2 linked regions of the Homo sapiens genome follow. The protein of the gene in region 1 interacts with the protein of each later gene in a pairwise test. Each region holds a gene or a part of one and is shown in the gene's direction. Other genes may lie near its edges.

Evidence for each region.
Region 2: the proteins of DNASE2 (region 1) and XRN1 interact in a two-hybrid assay, tested with the Homo sapiens proteins (one large-scale study listed by BioGRID).

What each region holds. Positions count from the first base shown.
Region 1 is NC_000019.10:12,878,410-12,882,769, reverse strand, and holds the start of DNASE2 (deoxyribonuclease-2-alpha precursor), read left to right. Parts: upstream 1-1,320; 5' UTR 1,321-1,394; coding exon 1,395-1,480; intron 1,481-1,617; coding exon 1,618-1,798; intron 1,799-1,889; coding exon 1,890-1,968; intron 1,969-3,935; coding exon 3,936-4,100; intron 4,101-4,190; coding exon 4,191-4,360.
Region 2 is NC_000003.12:142,437,761-142,441,566, reverse strand, and holds part of XRN1 (5'-3' exoribonuclease 1), read left to right. Parts: intron 1-3,806. UniProt on the Homo sapiens protein: Major 5'-3' exoribonuclease involved in mRNA decay. Required for the 5'-3'-processing of the G4 tetraplex-containing DNA and RNA substrates. The kinetic of hydrolysis is faster for G4 RNA tetraplex than for G4 DNA tetraplex and monomeric RNA tetraplex.

The sequences.
Region 1 (4,360 bases):
GCCATGATCCTTTGAGGCTGAGGTGGGAGAATCACTTGAACCCCGGAGTTCCAGAGCAGCCTGGGCAACATAGTGAGACCCTCATCTCTGCAATGAACAATTATCTGGGTGTGGTGGCACAGGCCTGTAGTACCAGCTACCTGGGAAGATCTCTTGAGCCCAGTAGGTTGAGGCTGCAGTGAACTGTGATGGAGTCACTGCATTCTAGCCTGGGTGAGAAACCATTATCCTGTCTCAAAACGACAAAAAACAAACATACAGTCACCTCTTTGCTAGCTCAGGGGATCCTGGAGAAAACGTGCAGAATGAAAAAGGAGAGTCTGGGTGGCGTGGATTACATGCCTGTAATCCCAGCACTTTGGGAGGCAAGACAGGTGGATCCCTTGAGCTCAGGAGTTCAGCCTGAGCCACATGGTGAAACCGTGTTTCAAAAAAAAAACTACAAAAATTAGCTGGGCATAGTGGCATGTGCCCGTGATCCCAGCTACTCGGGAGGCTGAGGTGAGAGGATCACTTGAGCTGGGGAGGCAGAGGTTGCAGTGAGCCAAGATTGCGCCACTGCACTCCGGCCTGGGCAACAGAGCGAGATATTGTCCGGGAAAAAAAAAAAAAAAAAAGGAAGGAAAAAAAAAAAGAAAGAAAAAGGGGAAGATACACTGGAACACAAATGCTTCTTAAGGGGCGCAGTGGCTCACTTCTGCAATCTTGGCACTTTCGGGGGCCGAGGCTGGTGGATCACGAGGTCAGGAGTTCGAGACCAGCCTAGTCAACATGGAAAAACCCCGTCTCTACTAAAACTACAAAAATTAGCCGGGCGTGGTGTCGGGCGCCTGTAATCCCAGCTACTCGGGAGGCTGAGGCAGGATAATCGCTTTAATCAGGAAGGCGGAGGTTGCAGTGAACCGAGATCGTGCCATTGCACTCCAGCCTGGGCGACAAGAGTGAAACTCCGTCTCAAAAAAAAAAAAAAAAAAAAAAAAAAAAAAAGAGGAAGAACAAAGGTCCCAAGAGTTGGACCCAGGTTGTAGGGCTGGAATAAAAAATAAAATACAAACTTGTGCCTGATCCAGAAACCCGGGCGGGAGTTGGGTCAGACAGAAGAGCGTGGGCTGGGATTAGCTACCACGAAAAGGAACGGTGGCCAGGCTCCAGGAGACGCTGGAGCGCCGGGCCCGTCGTGGGCGTGGTCTGGGCAGACTCAGCGTTGCCTTTTGCCTCTCCAAAACGCAGCATCGCGTCTCGGGGGAGGAGTCTGTACCCTCGTGATGTCCCCGCCCCGGTTCCCAGGCAAGTTTAGGGAAGTGAAAGGCGCCAGGTGCCAGTCCTGGCCTCTGATGTAACCCAGCGCCCCGCAGTCCCGACACAGATTCCTGGATCTCAGCCCCATAGCAGCTATGATCCCGCTGCTGCTGGCAGCGCTGCTGTGCGTCCCCGCCGGGGCCCTGACCTGCTACGGGGACTCCGGGCAGCCTGTAGACTGGTGAGTGCGCAGCGGGGGGCCTACCATCGCCCCGGGGTCCGGCTGCGGTCACTCAACCGGGATGGCTACCTCCTCGGGGAACCCTGGGGTGCCTTCTCTTCCCTCTCTCCTATTTCTGTGCATTCTCCGACCTCCAGGTTCGTGGTCTACAAGCTGCCAGCTCTTAGAGGGTCCGGGGAGGCGGCGCAGAGAGGGCTGCAGTACAAGTATCTGGACGAGAGCTCCGGAGGCTGGCGGGACGGCAGGGCACTCATCAACAGCCCGGAGGGGGCCGTGGGCCGAAGCCTGCAGCCGCTGTACCGGAGCAACACCAGCCAGGTGAAGGGGGCCCCGGGCCAACTAGGGGCGAAACTCTAGGGCTGCCCTGCCTGGGAGGAATTTCACGTTGCCTCCGTTTATCCGCCCGCAGCTCGCCTTCCTGCTCTACAATGACCAACCGCCTCAACCCAGCAAGGCTCAGGACTCTTCCATGCGTGGGCACACGAAGGGTGAGGCCTGGATTGGGGGCTGGGGAGAGACTCGGGTCCCATTTTTCCAAGGTAACCCCTGACGTGCATGGGGTGGTCGGGGAGATCTGCACTGTCAGACCCTGGGCATCTATTCCCCCCAACTTTTTTTTTTCTTTGTTTTTGAGACGGTGGGAGTTCGCTCTGTCACCCAAGCTGGAGTGCAGTGGCACAATCTTGGCTCACTGCAATCTCTGCCTCTGGGGTTGAAGCAATTCTCCTGTCTCAGCCTCCCAAGTAGCTGGTATTAAAGGCGCACCATCACACCAGGCTAATTTTCATATTTTTAGTACAGACGAGGTTTCACCATGTTGGCCAGGCTGGTCTCGAACTCCTGGTTTCTACCTCAAGTGATCTACCCGCCTTGGCCTCCCAAAGTGCTGGGATTACAGGAATGAGCCACCCTGCCCAGCCGAGTTCCTATGCATTTTTCCAAGCTAACCCCTGACCTCCATAGTGGGGTGGGAGATCTCCCCTGTCAGACCTTGGGCATCTATTTCCCCTATTTTATTTTCTTTTAGACAAGGTCTCACCCAGTCACCTAGGCTGGAGTGCAGTATCACAGCTCACTGCAGCCTTGACCTCCCAGGGCTCAGGTGATCCTCCTACCTCAGCCTCCCAAGTACTGGGCCTGCCGGTACCCCCCACCACGCCTGGCTTTTTTTTTTTTTTTTTTTTTTTGCGGCACTCTCTCTCCATCACCCAGGCTGGAGTTCGGTGGTGCAATCTCAGCTCACTGCAATCTCCATCTCCCCAGTTCAAGCGATTCTTCTGCCTCAGCCTCTGGAGTAGCTGGGATTACAGGTGTGCGCCACCATGCCCAGCTAAATGTTGTATGTTTTAGTAGAGATGGGGTTTTACCAGGTTGGACAGGCTGATATTGAACTCCTGACCTCAGGTGATCCACCTGCCTTGGCCTCCCAAAGTGCTGGGATTACAGGCGTGAGCCACCACACCTGGCCTACTTTTTGTATTTTTGTAGAGTGGGCTTTTGCCATGTTGCCTAGGCTGGTCTCTAAGTCCTGGTTCAAGCAATCCACCCACCTTGGCCTCTTAATGTGCTGCGATTACCGGCATGAGCCGCCACACCTGGCCTGTTTCCCTACCTTACATTACTCTTGGCGTTATTCTGGACTATAAGAATTTATGCCTGCAAAAACTGAGCTCAGCTGTGGTTCTAACACTGCTGGCACCCTCTCTAAGCCCCGCTGCAAACTGAGGGTGTTCCTGATTGCAGATGAGCTTGCTGGGAGGCCTGGAGCAATACCCTCTAATTGCCTTTTTTTTTTTTTTTTTTTTGAGAAGGAGTTTTGCTCTTGCTACCCAGGCTGGAGTGCAATGGTGCAATCTCGGCTCACTGCAACCTCCGCCTCCTGGGTTCAAGTGATTCTCCTGCATCAGCCTCCCGAGTAGCTGGGATTACAGGCATGCACCACCATGCCCGGCTAATGTTGTATTTTTAGTAGTGATGAGGTTTCTCCATGTTGGCCAGGCTGGTCTTGAACTCCCGACCTCAGGTGATCCGCCCTCCTCGGCTTCCCAAAGTGCTGGGATTACACTGCGTGGGGCCTGCCTTCTTTTTTTAAATTTTTATTTATTTATTTATTTATTTATTTATTTACTTACTTACTTACTTATGTTTGAGATGAAATTTTGCTCTGTGGCCCAGGCTGGAGTGCAGTGGTGGATCTCAGCTCACTGCAACCTCCACCTCCTGGGTTCAAGCGATTCTCCTGCCTCAGCCTCCTGAGTAGCTGGGATTACAGGCGTCCACCACCACGCTCAGCTAATTTTTGTATTTTTAGTAGAGATGGGGTTTCGCCATGTTGGCCAGGCTGATTTCTAACTCCTGACCTCAGGTGATCTGTGTGTCTCGGTCTCCCAAAGTGCTGGGATTACAGGCGTGAGCCACTGCGCCCGACCTCCCCTAATGCCTTCTTTTGGTCCAGGTGTCCTGCTCCTTGACCACGATGGGGGCTTCTGGCTGGTCCACAGTGTACCTAACTTCCCTCCACCGGCCTCCTCTGCTGCATACAGCTGGCCTCATAGCGCCTGTACCTACGGGCAGACCCTGCTCTGTGTGTCTTTTCCCTTCGCTCAGTTCTCGAAGATGGGTAAGTCGAGTCAGGGACACAGGATGAGTCCTGGGTTTACTGACCAGAACCTGGAACGATCTTGCATTTCCTCCTCCCCTTGTCCTCCAGGCAAGCAGCTGACCTACACCTACCCCTGGGTCTATAACTACCAGCTGGAAGGGATCTTTGCCCAGGAATTCCCCGACTTGGAGAATGTGGTCAAGGGCCACCACGTTAGCCAAGAACCCTGGAACAGCAGCATCACACTCACATCCCAGGCCGGGGCTGTTTTCCAGAGC
Region 2 (3,806 bases), on another chromosome or scaffold:
CCACTACCTATAAACAATGAAGCCAACCCTTTGCCACTACATCAGTTTTCTTACTCAGGTATGCCACGGTTGCAAGCTCGTCCCTCGGACCTGTGTAAGGACTCCTAGAGCTATTCCTGTTTTTTTGTGATATATAAAGAAAAGTCTTGCCCTATTGGCAAGCTTAACACTGGGGCTTGGGTTAGGGCCTTCTTTAGGGCCTGGAAAGCCACTTCTGCTTCAGGTGTCCATCTTACTAAATGGGTATTGGCTTTCTGAGTTTCCTTAATTAGTGTATATAATGGTCTGGCTATTTTGCCGTACCTGGGAATCCATATTCGGCAGAAACCTGTTATGCCAAGGAACCCTCTTAGTTGCTTTAGGGTTTGGGGATGAGGATAAGCAGTATAGGCTGGATACATTCCCCACTGAGGGCCCTGGTGCCTTTGGATAATTTTAGCCCTAAGTATTTAAACTGCTGTGAGCAGAGCTGAGCCTTTGGTTTGGAAACCTTGTAGCCACAGGTGGCGAGGAAATTTAAGAGCGCTTGGGTGGCTTGGTGGCACAAGGTTTCTGAATGGGCGGCCAAAAGTAAATCATCCGCGTACCGAAGGACAAGAGTGTCCAGGTATGAAAATTGGCTCAAGTCTTGGGCTAATTCCTAGCCAAATAGTTGGGGCTATCCCTGAACCCTTGGGGTAAAACAGTCCAGGTGAGTTAAGACGTTGGGTTCGAAGGCTCTTCAAAGGCAAACAAGAATTGAGAGTCAGGATGTACAGGGTTGCAGAAAAAGGCATCCTTAAGGTCCAGGACTGTAAACCGCTCTGCTTCCTCTGGTATTTGGGAAAGCAGAGTATAAGGGTTAGGTACAGCTGGGTATAGAGGAACAACAGCCTCATTCATAATCCTGAGATCTTGCACTAACCTCCACTGTCTGTTGGGTTTCTGTACTCCTAAATTTGGAGTATTGCAGGAGCTATTGCATGGTTTTACTAGGCCTTGGGCTTTTAGGTCCTTAACAATCTTTTGGAGTCCTTGTTGGGCCTCGGGTCTAAGGGGGTACTGCCTTTGGTAGGGAAAGGAGGTGGAATCCTTTAGTTTAACTTGACCAGGATGGGCATTCTTTGCTCGTCCATGTTGTCTTTCTGTTGCCCAGACTTCAGGATTAATTCCTTCCTCAAGCAGGGGACAACAAACGGGTGTTCCTTCTCCTATGTTCAGGTGTATAATGACCCCTACTTTTGCTAGAATGTCTCTCCTTAACAAGGGAGTGGGGCTTTCAGGCGTAATTAGAAAAGCATGTGAAAAGAGTAAAGTTCCCCAGTCACAACTTAGTGGCTGGGAGAAGTATCTAGTGACTGGCTGTCCTAGGACCCCTCGGATAGTGACAGATCTGGAGGACAGTTGTCCAGGACAGGAGAGTAAGACTGAGAAGGCCGTGCCAGTGTCCAGGAGACAGTTAACCTCCTGGCCCTCAGTGGTAAAGCATACCCAGGGCTCTGTGAGGGTGATGGCATGGGCTGGCGCTTTCCCCGGGCACCCTCAGTCCTGCTGCTGGATCATCTGGTTCAGCAGGACCTTCGTCTCCTGAGACCTTCGTCTCAGAGGACCTTCGTCTCCTGAGGTAGTGGGCCTTCCAGTGATTCCCTTGACATAAGGGGCATGGACAAGGGGGCGGCTTATTTCTACTTGGACAATCTTTTTTAAAGTGTCCTTGCGGACCGCACTGGAAGCAAGCCCTTTTAGGCATTCGATTTGCCCAGCTTTTCCCTTTTCCAGAGCCTCCAAAGTCCACTTGCCTAAGGGCCATGACTAAAGCGGTGGCCTTTTTTTTTTTAATCCCGTTTGTCCTGTTCCGCCTGCTCCTCCTGATCTCTATTATAAAAAAACAAGGTTGCCAAGTTCAGTAGAGTTTCTAAGTTTTGCTCTGGGCCTAAGGCGGACTTTTGAAGTTTTTTCCTAATGTCTGCAGCTGACTGATAAACTTGTCCTTTAAGATTAGTTGGCCTTCAATGGAGTCAGGTGACAGGGAGGTATGCTTCCTTAATTCCTCTCTTAGTCTATCCAGAAAGGCAGTAGGATTTTCTTCCTTTCCCTGTGTTACAGTGGACATCATTGAATAATTCATAGGCTTCTTCCTAGTTTTCCTTAGTCCTTCTAGCACGCAAGTTAGCAGATGTCTGCGGCACCAATCTCCATGTTCTGATTCTGTGTCCCAGTGAGAGTCTACACTGGGAACTGCCTGCTGGCCTGTGGGGAATCGTTCTCTTTCCTCTGTTGTCATCCTATCATTGACCTAACTGAGATACCAGAGATTGCCAAACTCTCGGGCTGCAGTTATGGCGGCACTTCTCTCATTTGGGGTTAGTGTCTGATCTAGCAGTAACATTATATCTCTCCATGTCAGATCAAAGGATTGTCCTAACCCTTGTAAAACGTCAATATAGCCATCAGGGTTATCTGAGAATTTACCTAGATCTATTTTAATTTGCTTTAAGTCTGAGACAGAAAAAGGTACATGCACTCTGGCTGGGCCGAATTCTCCTCCTCCCACTGCTTGGAGGGGGCATAATCGGGGAATATTGGCACTCTGGTTCATTGTTTACCCCTTTGTCTGTCTCCTTTGGACCGTTTGGGTTAAAGGGGGGTCCTTGTTAGTTGGGGAAGGAGTCGGGGGGACACTGGAATAGGGAGGTAGACTCTGAGGGCTTCCTGTAGGGCATAAACCACACTTTTTACATAATTGCGAGTTGTCTCTTAATGAAAAGAAAGTTTGCACATATGGCACTTCACTCCATTTGCCCTCCTTTCTACAGAAGAGGTCTAGCTGTAGGATGGTGTTATAATCTATACTTCCCTCACGAGGCCAGGTTTCTCCCCCTTGAAGAGGATATCGTGGCCAGGCGGTACTGCAGAAGAGTATAAGTCATTTCTTTCTTAGTGTCTGAGGGTCAGATTGGTCCCATTCTCCAGAATACATCTTAGGGGCGTTTTTGCCTTGTGGGGGAGAACGTTTCCCATCTGAAAAAAGAACAGAGGGATGCCAGCACCCCTAGTCATTTTCCAATGAGCATTAGTCCTAGAGCGTCCTGTAAGGGCCTAATGCTTATTCTTTTCCAGGGTGCGTAACCACCCATGGACCTCTGCTTATCGGATTAGTTACGCTTACCGATGTAGCAGTCCTGCACCTGTTTTCCCGCCTCTCTTGACCACAAAGAAAAGGGTCTGGACTGCTGGATTCTAGTGGTCCTTTACCAGCGTGCCCAAAATTGCCTTTGTGCTCAGGGGTGAGTTCCTTTCCAGGGTGCGTAACTCCCCACGGACCTCTGCCTATCGGATTAGTTACGCTCCCCAATGTAGCAGTCCTGCACCTGTTTTCCCGCCTTTCTTGACCACAAAGAAAGGGGTCTGGGCTGCTGGATTCTAGTTATTTTTAGTTTTTTGAAGAACCTTCAAACTGTTCTTCATAGTGGTTGTACTAATTTACATTCCTGCCAACAGTGTATGAGGGTTCCCTTTTCTCTACATCCTTGCTAGCATTTGTTGTAGCCTGTCTTTTGGATAAAGGCCATTTTAACTGGGGTAAGATGATATCTCATTGTAGTTTTGATTTGCGTTTCTCTGATGATCAGTGATGTTGAGCACCTTGTCATGTTCCTATTTGCCATTTGTGTGTCCTTTTTTGAGAAATGTCTGTTCAGATCTTTTGCCCATTTTTGATTGGATTATTAGATTTCATCCTATAGAGTTGTTTGAGCTCGTTGTATATTCTGATTATTAATCCCTTGTCAGGTGAGTAGTTTGCAAATACATTTCTTCCATTCTAT